Regions from separate parts of the Homo sapiens genome. Here all the other regions are linked to region 1. Evidence: fine-mapped expression QTL. A gene starts in region 1. Each other region holds a variant in brackets. All regions are shown on one strand. Distances are from middle to middle. Region 1 holds the start of CYRIA (CYFIP related Rac1 interactor A). Region 2 overlaps LOC105373444 (a long non-coding RNA gene). Region 3 has its middle 40 kb from the start of CYRIA. Region 4 overlaps CYRIA (CYFIP related Rac1 interactor A). Region 5 overlaps CYRIA (CYFIP related Rac1 interactor A). Region 6 has its middle 140 kb from the start of LINC01866. Region 7 overlaps CYRIA (CYFIP related Rac1 interactor A).

The links. PIP is the estimated chance that this variant, and not a neighbour inherited with it, causes the effect.
Region 2: its variant is the best candidate, but not a certain one, in a credible set for the expression of CYRIA in whole blood (INTERVAL, PIP 0.64).
Region 3: its variant is the best candidate, but not a certain one, in a credible set for the expression of CYRIA in skeletal muscle (GTEx, PIP 0.77).
Region 4: its variant is the best candidate, but not a certain one, in a credible set for the expression of CYRIA in whole blood (INTERVAL, PIP 0.58).
Region 5: its variant is the best candidate, but not a certain one, in a credible set for the expression of CYRIA in whole blood (INTERVAL, PIP 0.67).
Region 6: its variant is the best candidate, but not a certain one, in a credible set for the expression of CYRIA in whole blood (INTERVAL, PIP 0.85).
Region 7: its variant is the best candidate, but not a certain one, in a credible set for the expression of CYRIA in whole blood (TOPMed, PIP 0.57).

Annotation. Positions count from the first base shown.
Region 1 is chr2:16,664,245-16,668,313 of GRCh38, forward strand. CYRIA (CYFIP related Rac1 interactor A) reads right to left here and starts at 1,590. Exons shown (of 12, transcript NM_030797.4): 1 at 1,536-1,590. RefSeq lists silencers at 1,507-1,556, 1,627-1,796.
Region 2 is chr2:16,471,256-16,475,324 of GRCh38, forward strand. All of the region lies in intron 1 of LOC105373444 (a long non-coding RNA gene), which reads right to left. Among named protein-coding and RNA genes, the nearest start is that of CYRIA, 190 kb to the right of the region's middle. The variant A/G (reference allele first, on the strand shown) is at 2,500.
Region 3 is chr2:16,703,523-16,707,591 of GRCh38, forward strand. No RefSeq gene overlaps it. Among named protein-coding and RNA genes, the nearest start is that of CYRIA, 40 kb to the left of the region's middle. The variant G/C (reference allele first, on the strand shown) is at 1,543.
Region 4 is chr2:16,549,825-16,553,893 of GRCh38, forward strand. CYRIA (CYFIP related Rac1 interactor A) reads right to left here. Exons shown (of 12, transcript NM_030797.4): 12 at 1-3,175. The coding sequence ends at 3,112. Among named protein-coding and RNA genes, the nearest start is that of CYRIA, 110 kb to the right of the region's middle. The variant G/A (reference allele first, on the strand shown) is at 1,962.
Region 5 is chr2:16,555,249-16,559,317 of GRCh38, forward strand. The region is part of intron 10 of CYRIA (CYFIP related Rac1 interactor A); the gene reads right to left. Among named protein-coding and RNA genes, the nearest start is that of CYRIA, 110 kb to the right of the region's middle. The variant C/T (reference allele first, on the strand shown) is at 2,364.
Region 6 is chr2:16,822,374-16,826,442 of GRCh38, forward strand. No RefSeq gene overlaps it. Among named protein-coding and RNA genes, the nearest start is that of LINC01866, 140 kb to the right of the region's middle. The variant T/C (reference allele first, on the strand shown) is at 2,430.
Region 7 is chr2:16,619,275-16,623,343 of GRCh38, forward strand. All of the region lies in intron 2 of CYRIA (CYFIP related Rac1 interactor A), which reads right to left. Among named protein-coding and RNA genes, the nearest start is that of CYRIA, 45 kb to the right of the region's middle. The variant A/C (reference allele first, on the strand shown) is at 1,846.

The DNA of each region.
Region 1 (4,069 bases):
TTTCCCACTCTCCCCTCACAGGAACCCAGGGCCAGCAGGAGGTGAAGTTCTGCCAGCCCCCAGCCTGGGCCCAGCGCCCATGTTTATGACTGTTTATTTCAGAGCAAGTAGAAAGGAGAAATTAGAGCCATGAAAGACAGGACAACGGACCAATAAAAACCAGCTCCCAGAAGAGTCAGAAGGAGGAAGACAGGCAAAACTGTCACCATAGCAACACAAGACAGTCAGAAGCACGCAGGAAAAACAGCCCCTGCTCTGCCTCCTGTCTCCACTGCAAAGCAAGCCCTCGAACCCCAACCAGAGATCAGTGAAAGCCGACAATGATCCACCCAAAGAACTCTGGTACCCAAGCCCAGACCTGGCTAGCAGCCACTCTCCTCCTGCTGCCCCAGCACAAGTCCCAGCCTTCCAGGGTCCCAGATCAGCATTCTGTGCCCTGGGGACTCGACACTGTGCAGATGGCCCAGGTCCCATCCAGAGGAGATAGTGACTGGTGACAGAGAGGAAAGTTTCTAACAGGGAGAAAAGGAGGGTCACAGAGCTTCAGGGGAGATCAGGGCCCTAAACTCCAGCCCCATGACCCTGTCTTGGGTTCCCTGGGGAGCAGGCGGGTAAACAAGGGTGTGGGAGAGGACATCAGGCCCTGGACACAGAAAGATTGCTCCATCAGTTCTGGACCTGGCACCCCCAAAACAGTGGCTGGGGGAATTCTGGGGATGCGTGGGGAAATAGCTTTGGAGGCCTTAAATGACAAAGATCTTGGCCCTGGTCTCTGGGGACACTGGCTAGCGAGTAGGAGCAGCTTGGAGGAGGACCCAGGGACGGGCTGGCCCATTTTGACAGAGAATGTCTCCTGGCAGACAAGACAGGTGTCTCCACCAAAAAGCATGGCTGGCCTGGGACCAGCATTTTGGGAAGTGGGTCAAATTGTTCCCAAAGCTCAGTATTGGAAAAGTGCCTTTTGCCAAACTGGGGTTCTGGGTTCTGGGGGAGGAGAGAGGGTGACGGCAAGGTGTGCTGGGTCCTAGGCACAGCAGCTTTCTGGCTGGCTAAGAACGTCTGTGGCAGGTGGCAACAGAAGGGTCCAGGTGTGCAGGGGCTGGGGAGGGGGCCATCCCTCCCTTTGGGGCTGTAGAGAGTACCCAGGACCCCGGGGCCTCGGGTGGTGGGAAGGGGAGTGTTAGGGGTCCCCTGCAAGAATGGAGCTTATGATACCTGGGGTGGGGGGTAAGTGAGTGAGGGACGAGGGAGGGTGGTCTGGGAAAGGAACACAATCAGGAGGCAGCCCTCTCAGAAAGAGGGCAACGGGGCACAAAGCCGGACCTCTGTCCGGCGATCGCTAGAGAAGGGCTCCCGGACGGTGTCCTCCGCTCTCCCTCCCTCCCAAAGGCTGCAGGGGCGTCCGGGAGGAGAAGGATGGCAGGGAGGCGCCCGCCCCGCCTCGCGGTGCCCCGCGGTGCCCCGTGCAGGCCGAGCCCCGCGCCCGCAGACCCCCGCCCGCGCCCCTGCCGCGCCCCCAGCCGCGCCGCGCTCACCGAGTCGCCGCCGCCCTGCTCTGCCGCCCGCTCCGCCGCCGCCGAGTACGCCTCTCCCGCGGCCGCCGCAGCCTGCGAGACGGCCTCGGAGCCCCGCCCCGCCCCTCCCCGTCCCTCCCCGCCCCGCCCCGCCCCCAGCCCGGCTCGCGGCAGCCGCCCCGCCCCGGCCCCGGGGGATCCCCACCCGCGCTGTCACCGGCCGCGTCCTCACCCTAGCCTGGACAACCCCATCTCTTTGCCCGGCTCTGCTCTCTGCTCCCAGGAGCTGGTGCGGACCCGCCCCAGCACGGTCGCCCCTGCCCCTTCTCAGCCTTGGCCACTTGGCCTTGCCTTCCCAGAGGAAGCCCGAACCAGACCTTTCTGTTTCTGCACACCAAATTCCTCCACACCCACGGTTGCCCTCCAAGAAAAAGAAATCCCCGCAATCTCTAGACGCATATTCACCTTCAAATTAATGCCCAGCCAAATCATCCCAATCCCTAGGCACACTCCAAATTACTTGAGATTCTGAACCCAGTCTCGCTCCCAGTCCCTTTCTGCCCACCCTATTAACAGATCTCCAGCCTTGGGGCCCGCAGTTATCCGATAGGACCACTGTAAAGTCTTCCCAAAGGCTCAATCCAAAACATGTAATTAACCTTAAAGAGTAAGTCTGCAAAAACACTTAAAAAATTCTATGATGCAAAAAGAAAGTAGTGGGTTACAGCGTCATTGACGTGATCATTGTTCTAAAACATCTGCCATGGAGGCTTTTTGCATTAGAGAGAGGGAGATTCAGGAAACCGGAGAGGACTCAGCAGTGCCAAACAGGTTGTGAGTCAGAGCTCCTGTTGAGGGGAGGGAGAGCTCCTGGGGACCCCGGCTTCGGGTGCTTCCTTTCCCAGTCCATCAGCCAGAACATCATGAAACATGTGTTAAATCCCCATAGTGTGCCAAGGTACGTGCCCGAAGCTGCATGGGTTGGGGCCCTGTGTGGGCTGGGATCAGAGGAGGCGGGAAGCATCAGGAGAAGGTGTTCAGGCCCCTCTCCTTTCTGAGATCCAGGGTGTTTCCCCTGGGAGGACTTGTTGCCCAAGCTTCCTTTGCACTCTGAAAGGCTCTCCTGAACTGCCCACAGAGGCTCTTGGTCTGTTTTTTGGCAAAAATTCACAGAGGGCAGGAAGGCACTGTCTAGTTAGAGTGAAATATTTTCCCACTTGGAAGGGGTCCTTAGGACCAGAAGAAACACTTTCCCGTTCTCTTTTTGAGTTTTCCCCATGCCCTAGACCAGCCTCTGTTGTCAATTCCTGCAAAGGTGTTTTTTTTGTTTTTGTTTTTTGAGACAGAGTCTCACTCTGTAGCTCAGGCTGGAGTGGAGTGGTGTGATCTCGGCTCACTGCAACCTCCATCCCCCGGGGTTCAAGCAATTCTCCTGCCTCAGCCTCCAGAGTAGCTGGGACTACAGGCGCCTGCCACCACATCCGGCTAATTTTTGTATTTTTAGTAGAGACGGGGTTTCACCATCTTGGTCAGGCTAGTCTTGAACTCTTGACCTCGTGATCCACCCACTTTGGCCTCCCAAAGTGCTGGGATTACAAGCGTGAACCACCGCAGCCGTCTGGCAAAGGTGTTTTATCTGTGAGTGGCTCTATGAGAAAAGCCTTCTTGCCATGAGGTAAACCATGTCTACTACACACACACACACACACACACACACACACACACACACATACACACACCCCTAAAATTTTCTGGCTTAATCTGTCCACCTTGAGTTTGGCCAGGTTTTGGGAAGAGTGAGGACTAATCAGCCACAAACACCATTCATCCCCATAAAACACTATCATTTCAGACCATGAGAGGACTTTTCACTTTACACCCATCTGTCTCTACTAATACAGCTCAAGTTTGTGAGTAGACTATTTGATGCATGAGATTTCACTTCCACACACTTAGAGATGGCTTCTGTTTCAATAATCGAGGGATACCTGCATGGTATTGCCCAGCCCATTATGAAATAATAGGGTTTTCTAATGATCAGTGTGGAATTTAATAATTGAATGTTTCCTAAGACAAAATTACCAGATGAAAGTCTTTTAACTTTATCAGTAATACTAATAACAAGTTTAAAGGTTATTATCATAAAGATTATAGTGAAATTAAACTGCCATTTAGGAGGCAGGTAAGTTGAGACTGAATTTCAGATGGTTGTCACTCACAATATGTGTGCTAAGATGAACCTTAATATCTTAATTAAAGTAAATGTATACTGAGCTGTGCTAGTTTCAAGGACATCTTTTTCATGTATTTCTTTTTTAAAAGAGATTGATGAAGCATGGACAAAGTGCCAGGCACTGTGCTAAGTAATGGAATAAGGACACAGTTCCCTGGTCTTGAGGAGGACACAGGCAGGCTGCCTGTGGAAAAAGACTAACAGAGATATTTGCTGTGTGGACCCAGGAAAAGAAAGAATTCTTTGTGATTGGGGGAAACTGAGAGCAGATTCTTGAAAAGCGCATTTTTAAGCTAAAATATGACGTGGGAAGTTAGACTTC
Region 2 (4,069 bases), 190 kb before region 1:
ATCAGATAACAGTCAAGGTGTGGGAGAGACAGTGAGACTGAGAAAAAGAAACAGTAGGAGGAAAGATGTGTAGGAGGTTCTCTGGGTGAGTATCAGAGACAAGGTACAGTTGAGCATGGCTGGGCCTCTCTGTGTTCCCTATGATGAGTTGTTTGGTGGGCTGGAACCATTCCAAGGGCTTGGGATGAAACCGGCCCATCATTTTCCCTTGGCTTATCTGGGCCTCTTATTCTTTTCTCTCTTACTTCTCCTGAACCTTCCCTTCCTATACCATGTCCTCTCCCCACTGGACTTTCCATCTAATGTAGGTGTTCCAGCATAATATACCTTATGGCATTACTGTGCAAAGACCCAGTGTATTGTTTCATGTGCATAGGGTGTGGGTGGAAATGCGTTTAGGGGAAGAAGGGAAATTTATCTGTAGCTAAGGCTGATTTCTAAAGAAGCTCTTGTTCCTGGATCCCTAAGGCCCATGTTTAACATCCCCAAGTCCTGGAGTTTTCTAGACATCCCTGTTGGTGATGTTCTTCCCTAAATGTAGTGTGACGCAGAAGAAGGAACACTGCGCTCCGAGCGTGGTCTCCTGGTTTCAAGGGCAAGCTCTGCCCGTGACAGTGTACTTGAAATCTTGGCTGGGCACAGGTGCTGACATACTCCCAGGAACTGTAGGAGAAACAGAAGATGAAGTTTCCCTTTTCTTAAGTGGTACAGCTTATAGTAAAGGAGATGGCACTAACATGCTGTGCAGTGGGAAACAACACAGAAATGACGTAAAACCAGCAAGGTGACGTGAGCGTCACCTGGCCTATAGGTGTTGGGGAAGTCCAGAGGATCAGAGCAGGAGGATGCTAGAAGAGACATCTTCAGAGCCAGGACCTGGACTCTAGGGAAAATTTTCACATGAAAATGATAATGATGAAAAAACCATAATTGTAATGATAATAACATAACTAATACTTTGAGTGCCTATTGGATGGTAGGATATTGTACTAGGTGCTTTATTTTGATTGTTTTTTATATACTCATGTGAATCCACAAGGTAGAAGTTGCTAGCTACATTCTATGGAATCTCAGATTAGGATTCTGACCAATGTCACACAGCCAGTAATAGAACAGGGGACATGTCCCAAATCTGCCTGTTCCTGACACTGCCAGGTACTCTTTCCTTTATTCGACTATGTCTCACATCGGCAATGGAATCTGTGAGAGCTGATTTTGTGTGTTAACCTGACTGGGCTAGGAATGGCCAAGAAGCTGGGTGTGTCTTTGAGGGTTTCCAGAAAAGATTAGCATTGGAATCACTAGACTGAGAAAAGAAACTTTCCCTCACCCAATTAATTGAGGGCATGAATAGAAGAAAAAAAGCAGAGGAGGGGCAAATTTGGTCTGTGCTTGAGCTGAGACACCCATCTTCTCCTGCCTTCAGGCATCAATGCCCCTGGTTCTAGTGCTTATGGACTCAGACTGGGACTTACAGCATCAGCCCCTGATTCTCAGGTCTGCAGACTCAAACTGAATTACACCACCAGCTTTCCTGTTTCTCCGGCTTGGAGACAGCAGATTGTGGGACTTCTTGTTCTCCATAACTGTATGAGCCAATTCTTATAATAAATCTCCATATACGTATATAGATATATGTGTGTGCAGATATGTGTGTGTGTGTGTGTGTGTGTGTGTGTGAATAGATAGATAAATAGATACCCTGTTAGTTGTGTTTCTCTGGAGAATCCTTACTAACACAGAATCTTACTCCAGACTCTTTCATTGCATAAAGTAAAGGCAGATCAATCCTTCAATGGGGCCAGTAGTATGAATTTCAAGTTATTCAGCCATTGCTTCCTCAGTTCATTTATAAAAAGACAAGGCCACAAAGCATTCTGCAGTAGAATTCATAGCCAAAAAATTAATTAGAGACAAAGACTCTGGAATTTCTTTGAGTGTCTTATTTCTATCTCCTTTACTAGGCTCAAAATAACCTATTAAACCATGTGATAAAAATAAATCGACAGGCCAAGCACGGTGGCTCACACCTGTAATACCAGCACTTTAGGAGGCTGATGTGGGTGGATCACCTGAGGTCAGGAGTTTGAGACCACCCTGGCCAACATGGTGAAACCCCATCTCTAAAAAAATACAAAATTAGCTGGGCATGGTGGTGCATGCCTGTAATCCCAGCTACTTGGGAGGCTGAGGCAAGAGAATCGCTTGAACTCAGAAGGCGGAGGTTGCAGTGAACCGAGATCGCACCACTGCACTCCAGCCTGGGTGACAAAGCGAGACTCCATCTCAAAAAAACAAAATAAAATAAAAAAATAAATTGACAGAAATGGTTATTATTTCAATTTCACTGTGAAATATTTTATTATTCTTATTGACTCATTTGTTGAAGAATCTAAGATTACCAAGTGACACACTCATTAATTCAATTTATTTTTTGTAAATGAAAGCACTGCTCTGGCTGGACCACAAACCGCATGTGCTCAGTGGTTGGCTGCCTTC[A/G]TTTCAGCTGCATAAGATTGGTTGGATCCAGAGAGATTGTCCTCACTGATGCTCTGAGCCAGCCTTGAGGAACCACCACATCTGACCTCATTCTGTTTGCTGTGACAAGAGAGGGCAGAGTTTTGTGATATTGCTTTTGAAGACAATGTCATCAAGATACAAAAGCCATGGGAATAGTGTGTATGGTGTGTGTATACAAGGGAAATGGGGAAATGGTGTGGGATGTGAACACAAGTGTGTGTTTGTAAGGGGTGGAAGGAGGGAGAGAGAAAATGAAAACCATCACGTAGGGAGTGCCAGCTCTCTGCTAGGCACTCAGCTTTGTGTCTTACCTAAATCACACACCATCCTCCCAATGTTGAAAGTATGTGATAACATCACCATATGATGGAGGGGGAAACTGACACTAAAAGCAGTGAAGAGACTTACACAAGGCTGCAGGTAATTCAGCCAACTCCCATGCTTGTCCATGCTCCTCTGCAGCTCACTGGGACATTTACTGTGAGCCTAATCCTGTATGAATGGTCAGGAGGGGGATAAGTCTGAGAGATGGGGGCATGAAAGAGTGTGAATTCATTTTCCTTCATGGAACATCCTCACAGAGGAAAAGGGCTCAAACCTCCTGTTTACCTGTTAAGAGTTAAAGCCAAGGCTTAGCTGAAGTACTTAATGCTGCAAGAACATGTCTTCACACTCTAAAGAGTCTAAAAACGTGAGTGTACAAAATGTGAGGTGATGACCTTAATAATTTTTAATCAGCATGCAATTATTTACAAGTTCAACTATTTACAAGTTCAGTTCAAAGCAATGTAGGACAATGCAGTGTGGAGATGACCCCATTCCCGCTGGAGAATGGATAGCCTGACTTTAAAGACAAAATCAAAAGAAAGTCCAGAGCAAGTCTAGATCTAAGGTTCCTCACACCATGATAATATATATCCACAGGGTAAACAAGAGGCATCAGGAAAAGATTAGTTTATGTGAAGTAAAAGTCTCTTCTAAGAAGATGAGAAAGTGTTAATATATAGTAAAAACATTTTAATCCCAAATAAAAATATATGGTTATATAGATGTAATAGACATGAATGTAATATACCTGAAATTTTAAGCTTCAGGTGAGAGGCACAAGATTGAGGAGAAAAGCCATGCATAGCCTTGAATTAAGAAGAAACAGTTGGTGTTCAGGCTTTCTCACTTGCTGGCCATAAATTCTTGGGCTTTTCCTATCTGTGCCATGCTTTCTCCCTCTATAATTAGGGAAAAACTGCTCCAATCCTGCTTCTCTCCTGTAGGATTGTAGTGAAGCTCAAATTAGAGACTGGTCACCTGTGTGTTTTATAAATTCTAAGAATCACGATCATGGTCACCATCAGGAAAATCTGTCAATGAAGGCTGTAGAAAATAATTTTACGCTTGAAATAGAAGCACGATGTCACGGGTAACTTTACTAGGGATTCCTTCCTCTGCCTGTTTTCAGGGTCCTCTCAATCCCAGGCAAGGAGTACTTTGCATTTTCGCTTTCACAAGCAATGTGTCTATAAGCATTTTGTGCACATGTTCTGTTACACAC
Region 3 (4,069 bases), 39 kb after region 1:
AAAATCATTTACTACTTCTATAGCTTATTGGTAGAGCCTGAGTTTTTTCATCTACAAAAATCATGTAAATTGCAAATAATAAAAAATTTATTTTTATTAAAACTTTTATCAGTTATTTATTTATTTTTTTTGTCTAAATGTATTGCCTAGGACCTCCAATACAATATTAAATAAATAGTGACAGTAGGCATCTCGATCTCATTTTCACTCTCTTGGGAAATTGTTCTGTTTTTTACATTGAATGTGACACTTACTGACATATTTTAGTAGAATACCTTTAACAGGTTAAGGTTATCTATTTCAGATTCTAGATTACTAAGATTTTTTAAAAATATAAATGAGTATTTGATTTTATCAAATGTACATTCAAAAATGAGTTAGTCAGTTTAATGCCAATGACTGAACTGTATACATTTTAAAGCAAATTATAAACATGAAAATTGACTCAAGAAGAAATAAAAATCCTCAAATGTTACCATCGAATAACTTTATAGTTAAAATGTTCAGTCACCAACAACCCCACTCCACACATTCCCCAGGCCTATTTTACCTCCTACCAAGGAACAATAACTATTAAATAATAGAAAATATTACAGAGACTAGGAAAAGAGGGAAACTGACCGGCACTTTTGATAAGACTATTACAGTCTTGAAACCAAAGCTGGTCACAGCTCATTCAAGTTAGGAAACACAAGGCAAGTCCCTTTGAACACCTATCTGATTGTGTTGGAATTTATGTCTTAAGCCTCATATCTCTTGGATTCTATTTTCCATTTTGCACAGCTCTCCTGCATTCTGGATGGTTCTTTTGATTTTTGTATTGGTTAATCAATTGTTAAGCCAAGATGCTGAATTCCCTGCCCCTCAGTTTTAGCCCCTTTATTTTTATTTTTAGATTTGCCTATTATGTTTTTATTCTATTATATTCTTACATTGTACCTTTCCTTTCTTAATTTGCTTTTTGAAACACTTTAAATATTCCTAATTAAAGTATCTTCTTTGGGTACAAATTCCCATGTCTTTTGCCATTGCTGATGATACCACATGGCAGTTTTTTTCTGTGGTTTCTAATATCCAGTGGAGTTCGTTTTTGTGGGAATCCTGAGTGTAGAATGATTTGTAGAAGCAGTCATCTGGAGATCCATGAGATTAATCAGGACCAGGTCCTTTCTGACAATAGTTTCCCAATCAGGAATTTTTACATCTTCTGAAAAGTATTCATAAGAGCTACATGGTAGTGTTCTTTACAGTTTTAGAGGTTTAATCTCTGCCTCTGTCTCCTCCTTGGTTAAGCCATCCTGCTCCTTGTCCAACAGGTGGAACATTTCTAGCCTCAGTACACAGGTAGCGTAGCTTCTGTTATGCTGGGCTTTGTGCAGTGAGGCCACTTCAGACTGCCTCGGAATACGTGGCCATATTTTTTTCATTTCTCCCACAGATATTTAAACCTCAGCTCCTGAACCATGTATTCGATATAAGTACTCACAGGAATTTTTCTTGGCTTAAACTTTCACTCACAGCTGTAAAAATTTGAGTTCACTT[G/C]TCTTTTTTTTCTCTTATTGGGAGAAGTGTGGAAGCGAGATGGAGCTAATTCTCAGCCTATCATCTTGCCTGATGTCTGGAGTATGAATTAATAAATACAATTTAAAAACAATATGCTTCTCTCATTTGTAAAACGTCCTTTGTTTATTTTGCAAATAGGTGAATTAACTAATGGATATCTGTGTCCCTGAACAAGATAATGAAATTGTTCACGATTCAGTTTACAGTTTATTAGGTACTTAGTGCATTTAGCACGTCAGATGCACCACATTAAAAGAAATAACAGCAAATTCACAACCACAAATGCCTTCCTAATCCACTTGTCCCACTAGAGCTCATAGAAAAGGCCTTTGAAGTAAAAATTAATGGTGACTTTGTTTAGTTGTGGATGTCTAAAATCAATGCCCCAAGAAAAGTTTCCTAAGTTGAAGGAATGAAAGGAGCTTTTCTTCACTTAGCTTCTCCTTCTGAAATGCATTTTGCACCTGCTCTGGTTAGAATATCCTGGGCCCCAAATCTTTGTTCTCTATGGAATACTCACATGCTTCCTCCATTATTTAGGGGTGGGGGCCTGTCTTCCTGATAATTGGTGGGTCTGATCAGCATCTGGGGAGCTATCCAGACGGCCTACAACCCAGAAAGAGTTGTCTGGAGTATAAAGTATTGGCTTTTAATGTGGATAAACCAAAATCAATAAGTAAACCAGTCTTTTTTCTTTCTTGTGTGTGTATGTGTGTATGCATTCATGTACTCATGCACGGCAGTCCTGCAGTATTAAAGGAATTGGCATCTGTAATAAAGTTAGAGCTTTCCGATCTAACTGGGACTTCTGTCTCACTATACTCAAGGCTAAGCCTGTCTCTAAATGCTTCAGTTGGTCATCACGGGCTCTGCAAATTGGATAAGACCTTAGAGATCAACTCATTTATCAATCTCTCTGTATAGACGGAGAAACTGAGGACCAGTGAGGGGAAAGTTCTACAGGTCCCAGAGGATCAAAGTTTAAATGTGGTTGTTCTGAAAGGAAAGAAAGGAGCGTGCCTTCTTGAGCATTTAGATCACACATTGGATGCGTGACTAGGAAAACAGCTACTGGGAAGATGCTTTGTTGACTTCTTTCTTTGTGTGTCAGTCAGTTACCTCTTCTTTTCACCAGAGAAAGAAAAGCAAATCCTAATTATGACTCCTTTGCCTTGCAATGAGACCAGATTAATAATAACAGCCACCTTAGTGTATTGGTTTTTTCTCACACTGCTGCAAGAACTACCTGAGACTGCGTAATTTATGAAGAAAAGAGATTTAATTGACTCATATTTCTGCAAGTTGTACAGGAAGCATAGCTGGGAGGCCTCAGGAAACTTACAGTCATGGAGGGAAGGTGAAGGGGAAGAAAGTGCCACACACTTTTAAACCATCAGATCTTGTGAGAACTCTATTAGGAGATAGCACTAGGGAGATGGTTCTAAATCATTAGAAATCACTTCCATGATCCAATCACCTCCCATTAGGTCCCTCCCCCAACACTGGGGATTTCAATTCAACATGGGATTTGGGTGGGGACACAGAACCAAACCGTATCACTTGAGCTGGCATTGATTGTGCTCTAGGGATGTGGATTCAGGGTTTTCCAGGTCACCTGCAAATGCTACTTAAGGTCTCAATATTTTATTCCCATAGGACAAAATATTCCATATTCCTAGGAAAGTCCAGCAAGTTCAAAGAGTAAATGCTGACTTCTAGGTGACAGATGAGACAATTTTCAGAAAGCTGGTTTAGATCAAGGGCAAAGGGAGAGAGTCTTCGAGCTCTGAGTGCCAATCAGTGTGCTCCATGGCAGAGTGGATCAACATAGACTGACCCTCACACCTAGCTCTAATTGTCCGGTACCTGTTCCTTACACCAGCCAGTGTCTTAAACATCTTGATATTTATTTGTTTTCCTGACCAGCTATTGAAAACTATACTCTTGATTTGTTTTAATCAGATAACGATAAGGCATGTAGGCACATAAATGACTGTCATGAGGGGTTTTCTCACAATTCTCTAGAAACAGGAGGCCTGGGCCACATGGGGAAGAACCAGGGCGGGGGGCGGGAGTCTCAGGCAGAGAAAGTCAAGGAAAGCAGAGTTCAGAGCCTTTGTTGTGGTTTCTGTGGGAAAGGCAAGGCATGCAGATTTAGAATGGGCTAGTTTGAATAATTTCAGTGGGCTCTGGGGCATAGGAGCTGACCCTAATTGTCCAGTACCTGTTTCTGGGATAAGTAGGGCAGAAGAATACCACCTCCTGGAGTGTAAGAGCCAGATAGAGAAGGTGGTTGTGAGTACGGGCTCTGGATTGGTTGGTATACAGATGAAAGGTGCTCTCCTCAGCGAGTCTTCTGCTATCTCTAAGAATTAGCAAGCCCTGGGTGGGGCAGCCTCTTTCCAGTCAGTGAAACTCCAGATACCAGATTATCACTCATATAGAAAATAAAAAAATATAATTAATACCTCAACACTGCTACTTCTGACCTTGTTCAGCCATCACT
Region 4 (4,069 bases), 110 kb before region 1:
ATCAGTAACCTCAGTTTACCATTAAGGTCTTAATTTAATGGTGATAACTAGGAGCAAATGTTGATCAAGCATGATGTTAACTAGTAGTTAAAAGGTAATATCCAAACTTTCTTTCTGGTTGTTAATACTCCACCCCTAATGTGAAGACATCCATTTCCAGTTGTTTTTTTTTTTTGTTATTGTTTTTTTTTTTCTACTACTAATTCCTAGTGGTGCACAACGAGTTTCTGAGAACACAGTAATAACGCCAAAGTAGCAGTGCATCTGAGAAACATAATTTTTACCTCGTTGCTTTCCCAAAAATAAATATCTCAGTCATGGAAAACACTGTTTATTTGAAAACAATGAGACCTCAAATATGAAATATAGTTAACAATGACATTGACACTGTTGCTAGCACTTTCCCCTAAACCACCCGTAAGTCTTGGACGCATGTGCATGCAGCACACACACACACACACAAAAACCAAAAACAAAGCCAAAAAAAAAAAAATCCCAAACACAACAATCCATGATTGTTCAATGACTCCTGATGCCGGGAGGACAGGCTGTTAAAAGAATTTGTCTCCCACAATATCTCTGGAGTGGGCACAAAGCCCATCACCTGTTAGTGATCACAGACATTCAGTTAACCTGTCCTTCCAGTAATCAGAGACAACAATTCAGACCCTGGACTTCTCAGAATCCATGTACTGCTGAGTCTTGGCTTTGAGACAAGACAAGTCTTGGCTAAATTGAGGCAGGACAGCAGCCCCTTCCATATGTTTGGTCCCATTTGATAGAAAGTCTAATTTAGAGTTATAAATGTGCTCATCTATTTACTCTGAGCTCAATCTAATTTGACAGGTAATTCCTCACATTTTCTCCATTAGCCAGCTGAGAGTCAGCTGTGGTAGAGACACACGACATGGGTTCAAGCCCCTCATGAGCCCTGTGGTGGCTGGCAAGTCCTTTCCTTTCTTTAAGCCTTAATCTCCTCACTTGATAGAGGGGGAGAAATTGACCCAATGATGATAAATATTGTGTGGTTCTATATTTCTAGCCTAGACAATTGTTGCTCAAGTGTAACATGTGACTGCCAAATAGGATATCTCTTAAGATGAATATCTCCTAACTTTCCTCACCTGGTATGATCACATATTCTGGCTTCCTCTAAGGTTTAGAATCTGTAGGTTCAAAAAGGTCTTGAAGACCACCTAGCATATTTCTATTCTGATGAGAGAAACTCCATCCAAGCAGCTGTACTTTTTCAACTTGAAAATCTCCAAGGAAAAGAGCCTTTTCCTTCTGTTGACTAATGTTTAGATGCAGACCAGGGAATCTTTCCTGTCACTTGGCTGAACTCCCTTGCTAAAACAACATAAGACAAGTATTTTTTCCCCTTTATTGGAGGATCCAAGGGAAGATCAGCTGGTCACTAAAGTCCAGAAAGCAATGGAGTCTTATAGCTCATTCCTGGGATGTTGCAAATAATGCCAAACTCTGATGTACTCAGACTCAACTTCTAGGATTATCATTCACTAAATGCCTGGGTGACTCCTTCTAGTGGAAACAGGCAAGTAACAATATAGACCAGACTGAGGATTTACTTAGAAGGGTTGAATCCCATCCCATAGTATGTATTCACAGCCACATGGTATAAAAGGAAGAGCATGGAGTCAAGAGTGAAGCATCCTGGGTTCTAGGCCCACATGGGAGCCATCCTGTATGACCACATCCTCTGGGTTTCATTTTTCCTTAGGAGGTCAGAATCAGAGATTTTCATGATTCCATTCGAACTAAGCTCTGATGTACAGAGAGAATGACTGCAGGCTTCATAATATTGTTCATCAACAAGACAAGGTGGGGCAAATGCTTGCTGGATACTACGTACTAAGGAAGAAGGGCGGAGTCAGTCATTTTATCGGCATTAACCTTACAGGGCTCTTGAAGATTGTTTTAATTGCCCATTTTAGAGACAA[G/A]GAGGTTAAGACTCAGAAAGCTTAAACACATTTCTCAAGATCACATTATGAATCATTAGTAAGGCCAGGAGTAAATTCAGGTGCACCAGGGCTTTTATATTGCAACAAGCTAGCAACGGGGTTGGGGAAGAGCTACTTTTTAAAAACCTGGGAAATAGAAAACATGGATTTTTTTTCCCTCTAAATTCCCCTAGTTTTCTGGTAACTAATGCAGTATCCTAGACCTTTGTTCTCATATGAATGGTCTTCAGAGAACAGGGCTCTTATGAGGGGTGGCTGTGCACCCAGAACTCTGCAGGTAACTGGAAGGTTGCTAAACTCACAAATAACTTCAAAGCCAGAGCTCCATTTCCCTAATCCCTGTAGGCAGAGGGCTGAAGCAGAGAGATGGCTGTCCTGTTGCCTGAGTGCACCTCTGAGGACCTGTCTCCCAGTTCCAAGACAGCCACCTTCATCAGTCCAGTGGCAACAGCACATCTATCTATTTCTGCTGCTCTCCCACTAACTGAAAAAAATACAGGAGATTTTTTTTTCATGTGAAATTAAAGGAGAACATTAGAGGGATATAAATCCAAACAGAAAAGGAGTATGCTGATTAATAAAACACGTGCAAACAGAAAAGTTGCACGTGTGGACTGCAGTCTGAGGACAGAGAGGGGGTGTGCTGAATTCGAAACACTTGGGTTTAATTCTCCACATGCATTTTTCTTGGATTCCTCTCTTCCTCTGTCAAGATAACAGTTGTGTTTCTTGTAGCTGAGCCGACACAGGAAATCAAATATTTTGTGTTTCTATAAACTATACTTCCCAGAGAGATAACACATCTAGAATTAAAATACTACCACAAACAATTAGGAATTTTTTATCGTTATAGATGTTGTTAAAGGACTCCAGTAGCAAAGATCAAAGTCTCCGAATTTTGCCTTTGGAGAAGGGGGTTTCATTTCAGACATCAAAGGTAAGGCTCTCAAGTCAATTTATGCTCTGCTGGGTTGAGTCAGTCAGGATACAAATTAAGGTCCATATATTTCAGTGACAAGAAGGAAACGGTTATGTAAATACACAAGTATTAACATCAATCTGTATTAAATTATGTAAACATATACATCTTCTGAGGTCAGCACATAGATCCTCTTCTTTGAGCAGAGCTCTACTGAAGCATTGCTCGAATCTGTTTGGAAGTTGATTCATCGTTCAAGTGCTTTGTAGTGAACCTGGATGGAGAGAGAATGGTAGAGGTTAGCGGCAAACAGTGCTCTGTGTAAGCTTCAGCCCATCTTTACCTTCGGAAACACAATTGATATTTGGGCTTATTTCTTTAGACAAAAATCCACACTTCAATGCTCACAGTCATCTCAGATTTAATATTTGATTCTTCCTTCCAAAGGAATTTTGTATTATGGTTATTAAACCAAGTAGATATTTTACATAATCAAATAATTACACAGAGGAGATATGAGCGGTCTCATTTTCTAGGGAGGTGGATTTCACAGGATTGAGTGCAGAATCCTGACCACTGAGGCTGCCCCTGCTAACTCACAAATTTCAGAATAGAGATTTGCATAGCAACATTGCCCAGAACTGGAATGTTTATGGTTCTCCACTTTCCTGGCAATGCTTAATTAACCTCATTGCCACCACAAGGGGGCACAAATGCTGGTAAGCAAACCCACAAAAATGGTGCAATCTGCAGCCTCCCAATAGCCGGGTGTAGAAATCATTTATGCAAAAGAAGGAAAAGAGAATTAACATGTAATAAAACTTTGGCCAGGTCATGGGCGCTCCATGTTAAGTTTCGTGTTACAATAACTTTGTAAAGGTGAGGTCATTGCCTTCATTTTATAGAAAAGAAAACTAAGATTCAGAGAGGTTAAATGATCTATTCCAGATCACAAGGTTACTGAATTGAGATTTGTGATTTCTGATTCAAACCTATATTTTGCTATCTGGAAAGCCTGTGCTCCTCTGACATCATCACAGTGCCTCCAGGAGGTACAAATTCTAACAAATCAGATGGGACTCAGGGCCTAGCACAGAGTTTTGCTTGATTGAATGATGCTGGAAAGCTCAACACACTCAGAAGTTAAAGCCTTATTCATGTGTATAGA
Region 5 (4,069 bases), 110 kb before region 1:
ATCCAACGCAGAAATGACCAACAGGTTTTCCTACCCCCTCAGGCTGGTGAGCTGTTCCTCTGGGCTTCTAGAGGATTCTGTATGACTGCAATCATTATCAATTTTCATACTATTTGCAATTGTACATTTCACTTGCCTGGCTTTAGGGACAAAGACTTGAGACTTTGATCTTGCCTTGTACTATGGAGCCAAATGCAGGGCCTTCCATCCACTCAGTGCTCAGTTTCCATGTCTATGTCTATGTTGGACATGTCTATGTCCAAGTCTATGTCTCAGTTGAGATTTACTGAATAAAATCTGAATAATTTTATGCCATTCTTCTGCCCTGAATGTTTTCTGTCCTTCACCTGTTTGACTGGCAAACCCTTAACACTTATTTTAGACCCAGCTGAAGATCATTACCTCCTGGAATCCTATTCTGACCTCACTACCTTCATTAGGTAGAAGCAACCAACACCTTTCTGTGCTCCCAATACGACTCTGTCATTTATCAGAGAAACTTGGAGAATTTAGTGCCCATATTAACTTCTTTCTTCACTAGACCAGGAGCTCCTGGAGGTCCAAGTCTATGTCTCAGCCATCTTTGAGAGGACTGATGAAGGGCCACTGTTCAGAATGTGAACTTCACAGATGCTAAATGCCTGAGTTTCCTTCATGCTTGTTTCTTTAGTATCTTCACAAACCTAGGCAAGTGTCTTAGCTTTTTGTGTCTGTATAATATAGTTGACCCGTAATTTGGGAAGTGCATGGAAACTGAATTTATATAGATCACATTACATTATGCATATCCTGGAGTGTTTTTTGGCAAAGCAAGAATCTTTCTGCAAAGCTATTCATATGCTGTTATATATTGGATTTGGTTATACTTAGGGCCCCTTTTGTAACAGCCCTTAGAAACATTTTCTGTCATTGTGCTTCTTGCATGTCAAAAGTTTTATCTTACGGCCTGATAGACCCTGATAGACTGATGGAGGCTGCCAGAAAACAGGGTTGGGAATCATGTGAGGATCACTACAGGTGCATCAAAAAAGAATGTCATGGCAAACGAGAGGTGTCTGTCATGCATACCGGATTGGGAGAAGCTACAAGCATGCCAGGTATATGCCACCCCAGACCTGGGATGGCATCAGGCCCAGGGATGCAGAGATTCTGTCCCTCTCCCATAGTTGATTATCACAGTGTGGAAGTGTTCTTATGAACCAGGCCTAAGAAGCAGTGACAATGCAGATGTGGAAGGGGTGGAAGAGCAGGGAATGCTGTTTGGGAATCCGGAGTTCCACTTAGGGTGATTTAAGCTGTAGGTATGAATAACAAGATGCTGTCAAGGATGCAGTTGGGGCCAGATGCAGTGTGAATTCGACAGCATGTTCAGGAGCTGGGGGCTTTACCTGTGGAAAACATCCTTGATAGGTGTTAAATAATCTAGTGATGTGGTTAATATGGAAAAGGACCAGAAGGAAGCAAGAACAGAGAGAGAAGGGGCAGTGAGAGCCCCTGAGGGTGTGAGGTGTGGGAGCAGCAGTGGGCATGGAGGAGCAAGTAGAGACAGGGACTAATCTGAGGTCAACTCCATAGGATTTGGTGACTGATGAGATATGGGGTGAAGAAGCCATTCCTCATTCTCAGGGACAATTTTAGCCTCTGGCTTAGACACTGGTTGGAGGACGATGAAATACCTGAGACGGGAACCCAGGAGAAGGAACAGGTTTGTGGGGGGAGGGGAATCTCTGTTTTGGGGATGGCCATATTTCAGGTGTCCATGGGAAATGGGGTCTGGAATTCTGGATAAAATCTGAGATGGAGACAGGGGTTAAGAGGTGATTACTTATTGGGTCATTTCAAAAGATTCTAAGGAAATCAATTGAAAACACCATCTCCCCAAACCCTCCTTTCCTGGCATTCACAATTAGCATTTCTTTAATAAATGGCTTGTGCCGCCTTGGTAGCCACTTGGATGATTCCCCCTGCCTGGAGGACTCTGCTTTCCCTCTGTCCTTTTGGGATAATCCTACATCTTCTTCAAGGTCCACCTCAAACATCACCCTCTGTCTCTGCTCTTCGGCAAAACGAGTTTCTCCCTCCCCCTAGGTTTCCAGAGCTCACTGCATGTCTATTCTGCACTCCAAAGCATGCCCTTTGTAAGTACACACACAGTGCCTGCCTCTCTCAGGCCCTCACGAAGAGATCCTGGGGTTTTCACAGTTGATGCTGATGCCCTAATGATTTACGAGCCCAGTGACTATAACTGCTGGCTTAGAAACAGACTAGTATCTGAATGGAGACCCTATATGTCGTAAAAAAAAAATGGCCCATCTCAAATGGTTTACCGTGCTTATTAAGCCTGAAACTTTCTTAGAGGTACA[C/T]GCAAACATCCATATGAACAAACCTTACGTAGTGCTTTTGACCTCCACGGACAAAAGCAAACTTCATCAAGACTATGCGTGAAGACTTAACATGATATACTGTTTACAGCCTCAACTGAAAGACTCAGTAAATAACATATAAAGCCAAGCTTTTTAAAGATTAGGGCTACAAGGCATAATTTTACCCAGTGTATTTTTAATTGTTGACTCTGTGACAAGTTAACAAATGGCTATGGTAATGAGAATATCTTATGAGTCTCAGGTAATGAACTCAACCCATAGTCAAATAATATTTACAGAGTTATTTATACTCAATCTATAGTATGAAAATGTTAAAGCCTCACAAAGGATACAGTAAAAATATTTATTGGTATAAAAATGCCCATGATACACTTTTATGTAAATGAAATATGTTTCAAAATAGCACGTAAAGCAGGGTACTAATTTGTTAAGGACATCCACACACATGTCCACACAAGCATCTATACTAAAAGAAGGTACACATGCATGCTGCTGTATGAACGGTGATCCTCTGCCTATGGTGAGGTTATTACAGGATATATTTAATTTACTATGTCTTGATTTTCTAAGTGTCAAAATTTTTTTCACATAAATATTTATTTTCTTGGTACATAGAAATAATTACATTAAAAATAATAAAGAGTCTATGAAGAAACATGACTAACTATACTACGAACTCAGAACCTTAAAATAAGTAATCCAAGTTACATTTTTTATTGATACATTATCTTGCATTCTTCAGACCTATGGCCCTCCTGGGCATGTAGACTTTCTCTTGCATAGGGCCAGAGCATCAGGACACTGTTCTCTGCAGATGAGTGAACACAGTGTGTCACCCAGACTCGGCTATACTGGAGTAAGTAAGTTACTACCAAGAGATGCTATTCTGCACTTTAAAGGCTTTAAATGAGTACATGGAATACACTATTGGGTTGGTGCTAGAGGCAAGTGCTGGATGAAGAGGAGGTGTGCTTTATGCCACAATCAACAGCAAAGCAACTGTGCACCAAAATCATGTGTTTTCAATTATCTTCATTCATTCATTCATTCATCCATCAAAACACCTACAGCGTGTCTGTTGAGTTCCACCCACTATGTGCCAGGTACTGTGTGAGGCAATAGAGCAGACATGAGGTATATAGATTATGGTCCCTGTCCTTGTCAAGAAATTGTCTGTGAGGGAGTCAGAAAATACAGAACGGTGAGTGCTCTGGCGACCAGAGAAGCAAGAAGGCTTGTCCTATGCAGAAAATGTGTTCTTAGATGAGGCGATGTTTGAAACATGTCTGAAAGGAACCCACCCATCAGAGAGGAAGAGGAAGGGCTCTCTCGGCAAGAGAAAGGACTCACACATATCACGTATATCCAAATGATGAGGAAAGGCATGGGACATGAGTGGAGCAACAGGTAGTGGTGGGAGAGGAAGTGAAAGGTAATTTGGGATTTGACCATAGTGTCTTGTAATGTAGTATCTCCCAACTCTTCACAATAGGACACACATAGAATAGAAACCATCTATTTGTACAGCACACTGGGTAAATGAAGGGACTGCATGCAACTAAGTGACTGTTCATTTGCTCAGCTCCATTAGAGACTGAGGGGATCAGCATCATAACATTGCTGCTGTGCTTTTGAGGTTGAGTGTTTTTTCCTAAGCACAAGAAAAAGCCTGGACATCTTGCTGT
Region 6 (4,069 bases), 160 kb after region 1:
CCTGCCTGTCTTATATTCAAAATACTGTATATGAAAAACATGAGCATCTCTCTCCTCCGGTGCTACTGTCCTAGCTCATGGCCCTACCTTCTCTTTCTAATCTGATATGATTTGCCTCCTAACTCATCTTTCCACTGTTATTCTTGCTCCTCTGCTGTTCATACTCCAGACAGAAGCTACATTATTAAAAAATGTAAGTCAGATAAAGTCATTCTCAGGCTTGATACTTCTTACAGCCTTGTTTTGCCCTTACAATAAAATGCATACTCTTCTAGGATCTAAAGGCCTGCATGGTCTGACTTTGACTCCTTTCTATAACTCACCTCGTGCTTCTTCTCCTTGCCCCCTGCTCTTCAGTACCCTGGACCTTGTCTGGAACTCACTATTCCTAGGGCCTTGGTGTACACCATTCTCCCTGCCTGAATCTGTCTTTCCTCAGTGATGCCTCCTCACACCTAAGGTTTCAGATTCAATGACATCTAAGAGGATTTTCATGACCCTACTATCTAAAGTAGTCCTTCCAATTATTTTCTATCAAAACCTTTTAGAATTTTGTTCAGAGCATTACAGCATTTATTTGTTGCCTTTTTCTTTATGTATTTCCCATCTGGAAGGTAAATTCCTAAAAGATAGGGATCTTGTGTCTGCACCTAAGCTCCTAGCAGGGCGCCTGGTGTAGAGGATGCAACTTGTGTCTATTTGTAGAATTAATAAATGAGCATTTCTTTATAACTTTCTTGTAACATAAATATTACTATACTGATGCCAAGGGATTGGTCTAGGTCTTGTTGCTTGCCACACAGGAAGCCAATCATGGAGACAGTGAGTATCGCCAGGGAAGAAAAACTTTAATTGGAAGACATTAGCTGAGAAGACCAGAGAAAAGCCTTAAATCTGTCTCCTCAACTAACTAAAATTTGGAGTTTATATAGTGGGGAAGGAATGTAGCTATGCAGGAAAACAGGAATTAGTGAGAGGTAAGGAAGCAATCATGACAAATGAGGGGTTTGGCATTTCATTGTCTGGATGTGGTGATCTGGTGAGTTTCAGTTCCTTTATACTATCTGGGAGGCCAGAGGGTCAGTTTCCTGAAAAAGGGACTCAGATAAGACAAATATAAATTTCAAGCTTTAAGACTAGGAGGGTCAATTACAATGTTGATTCAAAAAGACCTTAAATATCAGCTGTATGGGACAATTTGGCTGGTTTTATCATGTTCCCAATTTTGCAAATGAGAACTTAGAGAGACTAGCAAGTGAAGGTCCAGGAAGCATCGGTCTGACTTTTCAAACTTTTAAGCTTTTATCCACGATTCTGTTCTTCATAAATAACTTGGTGATGGTGGTGGTGTGTATCTGTATGCATGCTTGTGTTTTAGTGTATGTGTTTCATAGAGAGTCACCAGAGAAAATAACACTAGTTTGCCACATTATTAACTATAGAATGACCTGACATTTTGACATTTATCCCCCAAATGGAATTAAATATAACTAAAATATACATTTATATGAAATAAAATTATATAAAGGCTGAGATTAAACCCCATGCATTTTTACAAAGGAATCCTGAGGGAATCAGACTCTGTGGCATTTTTCATCCTTTAGGCAATCTTGAAATCCGAGTCTAATTTTTACAAACCTTAAGGTTTCAGTTATTTTGATGTGTTTATCTCTTTTAGTAGTGCACTTATTTCTAGGTAGTTTTGGTTGTTGTTATTTGCTTTAATAAGTATCTTTTCATTTCACTTATGCACTATTTTATCTCAAAATGCAGCCTTTTTCTTAATATCTTCCTCCTTTCCTTCTTTCCTTTTTTCTTTCTTCCTTTCCTCTCTTCTTCCTTTCCTCTCTTCTTCCTTCCATCCTTCCTTCCTTCTTCTATCTCTCCTTTCTTCCTTTCTTCTTTCTAGAATAATAGATGGAGCATGTGCTGTGTGCTAGTCTGTTAGGTATAAGATGCCAGACATGCCTGAAAGTATTGATGTATTTGGTGTTCTTTTTGTTGTAGCTGCTGCTGCAGTGGAGTATCCAAGGCTCTCCTCCTCTAATGCAAAAACATTCACAGGTGATACTAACAAGGTGCATTTTTTTCATATAAAGGCCAAAACTGTTTTCTGACTTTGTCAATACAAAAATCTATATTATGAAATATTTGATTTATATGAGAAAAAGTTTGTGGTCCTAAGGATTCTGGGAAGGAGTGAGTGATGATATTGATTCATCCAGCTTGGTTTACCTGTTCTAACTTGCAAAGATAGAAAATACCTCCAATTCTACTAGCAGTAAGGAGGAAAATAGTCCTGACTAACTGCAGTAGAATTACAAATCCATTGTTAAAGTTTCAAATATGTACAGGCATACCTCAGAAATATTGGGGATTGGGTTCCAGAACATGACAGCGAAGCAAATTTTGCAATAAAGGAAGTCACA[T/C]GAATTTTTTTGGTTTCCCAGTACATGCAAAAGTTATGTTTACACTATACTATAGTCTTTGAGGTGTGAAATAATATTATCTATAAAAACAATGCATGTATCTTAATTAATAAACACTTTAATGCTAAAAATGCGAACAATCATCTGAGTCTTCAGCAAGTTTTTATCTTTTTGCTGGTGGAGGATCTTGCCTCAATGGTCATGGCTGCTGACTAACCAGGGTGGCTGTTGCTAAAGATTGGGACAGCTGTGGCAATTTATTAAAAAGACAACAATGAAGTTTGACAAATGGATTGACTCTTCCTTTCACAAAAGATTTCTCTAGAGCATGTCATGCTGTTTGATAGCATTTTACCCACAGTTGAACTTCTTTCAAAATTGGAGTCAATTCACTCAAATAATGTTGTTGCTTTATCAATTAAGTTTACATAATATTCTATATCTTTTGATATCTCCTGTGAACATATCAACAATATTAACAATACCTTCATCCAGAGTAGCTTCCAGCTCGAGAAAATTTGCTTTGCACATTCATAAGAAGCAACTTCTCATCTGTTAAAGCTTTATCATGAGATTGCAACAATCAATTCGCATATTTAGACTCTACTTCTAATTTTAGTTCTCTTGATATTTCTACCCCATCTGCAATTACTTCTTCCACTGAAGTCTTTATCACCTCAAAGTCATCCATGAGGGTTGGAATCAACTTCTTCCAAACTCCTGTTAATGTTGATATTTTTACCTCCTCCCACGTATTGCAAATGTTCTTAATGGCATCTAGAATGGTGAATCCTTTCCATAAGGTTTTCAATTTACTTTGCTCAGATCCATGAGAGGAATACCTATGTATGGCAGCTATAGCCTTATAAAATGTGTTTCTTATGTAATATGACTTGCAAGTTGAAATTACTCCTTGATCCATGGACTGCAGAATGGATCTTCTGTTAGCAGGCATGAAAACAACATTAATCTCCTTGTAGACCTCTATTGATGCTCTTGGGTGACGAGGTGCATTGTCAATGAGCAGTAATATTTTAAAAAGAATCTTTTTTTTCCTGAGTAGTAGGTCTCAACAGTGAGCTTAAAATGTCCAGTAAACTGATGTAAACAGACGTGCTGTCATCTGAGCTTTGTTGTTCCATTTATAGGGCACAGGCGGAATTTATTTAGCATCATTCTTATGAGCTCTGGGATTTTCCAAATGATAAATGAATATTGGCTTCAACTTAAAGTTACCAGCTGCGTTAGCCCCAAATAAGAGAAACAGCTTGTCCTTTGAAGATTTGAAGCCAGGAATTTGACTCCTCCTTTCTAGCTATATACATCCTAGATAGCATCTTCTTCTAAGAGATGGCTGGTTTTTTTTTCCACTGAAAATATGTTGTTTAGTGTAGCCACTCTCATCAACGATCTCAGCTGAATCTTCTGGAAAACTTGCTGCTCCTTCTCCATCAGCATTTGCTGCTCCGCCTTGTACATTTATGTTATAAAGATGGCTTCTTTCCTTAAATCTAGTGAACCAAACTCGGCTGGCTATAAACTTTTCTCCGGCAGCTTCTTCACCTCTCTCAGCCTTCACAGAATTGAAGAGAGTTAGGACCTTGTTCTGGATTAGGCTTTGGCTTAAGGAAATGTGTAGC
Region 7 (4,069 bases), 45 kb before region 1:
ACACATATATACATACACACATATATACCCATATATACACACACGTAGGTACATGCATATGTACATACACACGTACATAAAACCCTCTGTGTGTGTGTGCATATATAGATATATATATATATACACACACACATATACATATTCTACCCCAAGAGTTCCACCCCAAGAGTTCCAAAGGGAAGGTAGCAGGGGAAATACAGTTTTCACTTAGAAGAAGCAGACTCAGGTCTCTGTAAAGCTGCATTTTACCACCAGAGAGCTATGGTGTAATCCATGCTGTTAAATCAGCGTTTCTGGATGATGAAGATGAATTCCTCCTCCTTTCTACTTCTTTTCTTGGTCCCCTTACCCTATTCTGCTCACTAACACCTCCATAGGGTCAGAGAAAAGATCAATTCAAATTAGTCAATTTGCTTCTTTTTAGTCGCTGTTGGGAACAAAGTGGGAGGATGAGGAGGTGGCTACTAATGGATTTTTGAAAAGCAGAGTTGAGGCATTATCTGAGCATGATGAGCAGGCTGGCTATTTCCTCCTCACCCATGACAGAGAAATGAATGTTGGCCCTTATTTATAGAGTGCAGTTCTGTACCTGAGCATCTCTCTTCCAGCTCGCAACTCCTACTCATCCTTCAATGCCCAAATCATATGGCTCCTTTTGGAGCCTTCCCTGACTTTCCTGGGCAGAGAACACATTTCATCCTCTGCATCCACATCACTTTGTTCATGTCTGGGTTCTTGTCTGCCATCTGCTTCTCTGTTGGCTGCTTTTGTCTTTGTCACGTGATTAGAAACTCCTTGAGGTGCTGACCTTGTCTGATTTGTCCTGATGTTCACGGCCCAACACAGGGTGTGACCATTGGTAGATACTCAGATATTACCTGTTTAATGAGTGCGTAATTTCTAAAAGAACACTCTGACTTTAGTATTCAGTGGAGAGAGGGTTAAGGAATGGATATTACTCATTCATTTTCTGATGGGAAGAAAATGTAACAAGACCTAAATCCCATCATTTCTACTAGAATAGTTTAAGTTTTTGCCAGCCAGTTCTAAGAGAAACAAAACTTATGTTCTAACCATTTCACAGCTATCTGTGTACTAAGACTGGGCATGAAATGACAAGTTTAGCATTCACTGCAGCATCAATGGTGGGAAGGGACATTGTATGCATCTGCTACCCACAGCCATCTCATTCAGTTGATCTGTGTGAACTTATTTTACAGCCAAGGAAACTATAATCTTATAATAATATATGAAAGAGGTATAAAATAAGCATTTTAAGGAACCAGGGTTTCAAATAAAATTAGGCTCTTTGCCTCTTAAAACTCCAATCCTAATAACTCATCCATTTTTGCTTAAAAACTGTGAGCAGTTCTAAGCTGTCCTCAAAACAGACTCAAACCACTTAGCTTGGTCTGAAAAATCCCTGATTCATACCCTCACCTCCCTCTCTAAGTGAGTCCCTTGGTCTCTCAGACTCACCTCTCCACATTCCACAGTCTCAGGAGGGAGGTGAAGGTGCACAGGATTCCCCGAGGCACAGTCCTTGCCTATGTGTCTCCATCTCCCGGCCTGGAAATTCCTAACACCCTTCCCTGAAGCATCTTAACCTCCTTGCTTGGTTCCTGCCTGGCTACATCTCATCTCCAGGACTGAGTGCAGACAACCTGCTCCCAAGAAGCTTCCATGGTTCCACCCCTCAATCTGGGTCAGGGACTCCTCCTCTGAGCTCCCCAAGCACCCATTCCTAATGCAACACTGATCAAAGTGTGTTGTCTAGCCATTAGTGCGTCTCCTGGTAAAACCAGAAGCAACTCAACTGCAGGGGCTGACCTAGTCCTCATTTAT[A/C]CCCAGTGCCTGGTACAGCACTCACATAGAAGAGGCACTCATATATCTGCTGAATGAATGATCCTCCTTCTACCCTGAAGGCGAGAAAGACCAATAGTCTATCATGTAAGTAAATTCCAAGAGAACAGGTAAAAGTGACCTGTGGGAGGTTCCAGTGGAAAATTCCTACTCTAGCAAATTGACTCTATGATGATCAAATTAAGACAACTGTTTACATCAACCTACTTTATCGATGCAACTTCCCCAAGAAACCTTGATAGCACCAGGCCATGGAGTCCTAAGAATGGGGCCCAGACTCATTAATCTACAGAGTCCCAGTAGCTAGGGCCCAGTAAAGATTTTTGAATGAATGACTAACACTGCATTGGGAAAGAGCTCTGGGGAAGAGAAAGGAAGGGTAGAAGAATCTCCAGAAAAGCCAGCCAGAACATAAACACCCAAGTCCTTTCTGCCCTCGCTTCATTCCACAGGCTCCTCATTCCTTCTGCTCCAATCCTACTGGTCACTCGAGACTGGGTAAAGCCCAAGTGCATTCCCCGATCAGAGATTTAGTTCTGGCTCTTCCTTCTAGCCTTGCTCCCTCACTTTCTCCAGATGCTGCCCAAATAATGCCTTATCCAGAGGTGTTCCCTGGCACTGTATATAAAACAGTAATGTCCATTTCCCTCAACTCTCTAGCTCTCTGACTTAGCTTTATTTTTTTCTGCTTTATTTTTTTCATAGCACCTAATACTACCAGATGTAATACATACATGTTTGCTACTTGTTGATGATCCCTTGATCCTACTTGAATGCAAGCTCCTTGAGAACAGGAACTTGGTTTTGTTCTGTCCTGTATCCCTAGCACCAAGATAGTGCGAGCCACCCACTGCATGGTTCATGTTCCATGAACATCTACTGACTGAATGGATGACTGGGTGAATGACTGCCTTAGAAAAGCTAACAGGCAAGGAAGAAAGCCCTGAATGAGCATGTGCTTGGACCCTGACTGTCTTGCTGAGTGCCAGGCCAGGATACCGGCCCCAAATCAATTGACCCTTACTCTTGGTCTTGGATGTAGGCTAGTCTGAAGGGAAAAAGCCACCGGGAGGGAATTAGTTTTCAGCTAATACCTCATGGGACAAAGGGCTAGGAAAGTAGTAGTTCTAACTTTGGGTATGGCAGAGAAAACCTTCCAATGGCCAGGCTGGAGAGGCAATCTGGCTAAAGTCCGGGTGAGAAAAGGCTTCTATGGATGAAGAGCTCTGAAATAAAAAGGCTGTTAACAGTTTCTCTCCTTTTTAAATCGTTGGGGCTTAACAGTATTTGTGGACAAGGCCTGTCCTAGATTTTAGGCACAAGGCTCAAATGAAATCCAGATATGGGATCAAAGCTATATTCAAGTAGCTCTAAAAAAGGGTAGGTAGGGAAAGGAGCTGGTATTTGCTGAGGTCTCCTGTAACAAGAAACCATGCTCATGCGTGATCTCACTTAATCCTCAACACCAGCTTATAACATGGAGTGTACTATCCCTACCTTACAGGTGGGGAAACAGAAGCTTGGGGATTTAAAATGGTGATTTAAGCAAAATCACTGAGCCAACACAGAGCACAGCTGAGATCTGAAGTCATGTGTGTCTAAGTCGCAAAACTGTTCTCCTTCCTCTGAATTATGCTATAGCTCAGAAACCACTCTAGAGAAAGAAACCACAAGAGGAAGAAAGGAAGCAGGCATGAGATAAACATGTTCCCCAAAGAATAAGAGTCTGGCATAAGAAACAAGTCTGGGATAAGACAATCCTGGGAATGCAAAACAAGCTTTAGATATCACCTGGTCTTACCTTCTGTCCTGTGCTTAGCTTCGTGAAATGCTTCTGGTTTTAGTTTTTCAGAAAAGTCAAGGTATCTAGCTGAAAAAGAGCTTCAAGACAGGATAGCAGAAGATAACACCAAAAACTAGTGCAAGAGTGAAGATGTGTGGCCATCTCAGTGTGTTGGCATTTTTTTCATGACTCCTGACCATGATTCCTTACACTGGGCCTGCGTAAGAGAGATGTGTTAATATACCACAATCCAGGCAGCTGAACGCTTGACCAAACTTTAGTCATCTAGGAGGAATGTCAGCCTACATCAGGTGCAACTCCAATGAAGACATTCTAGTAGATGTGGCCACATTCCTTGCACATAAGAAGGAAAGGATCCATAAGTGACTGGGAGGAGGGGAGAGAGACGAGCAATAAGCAGAC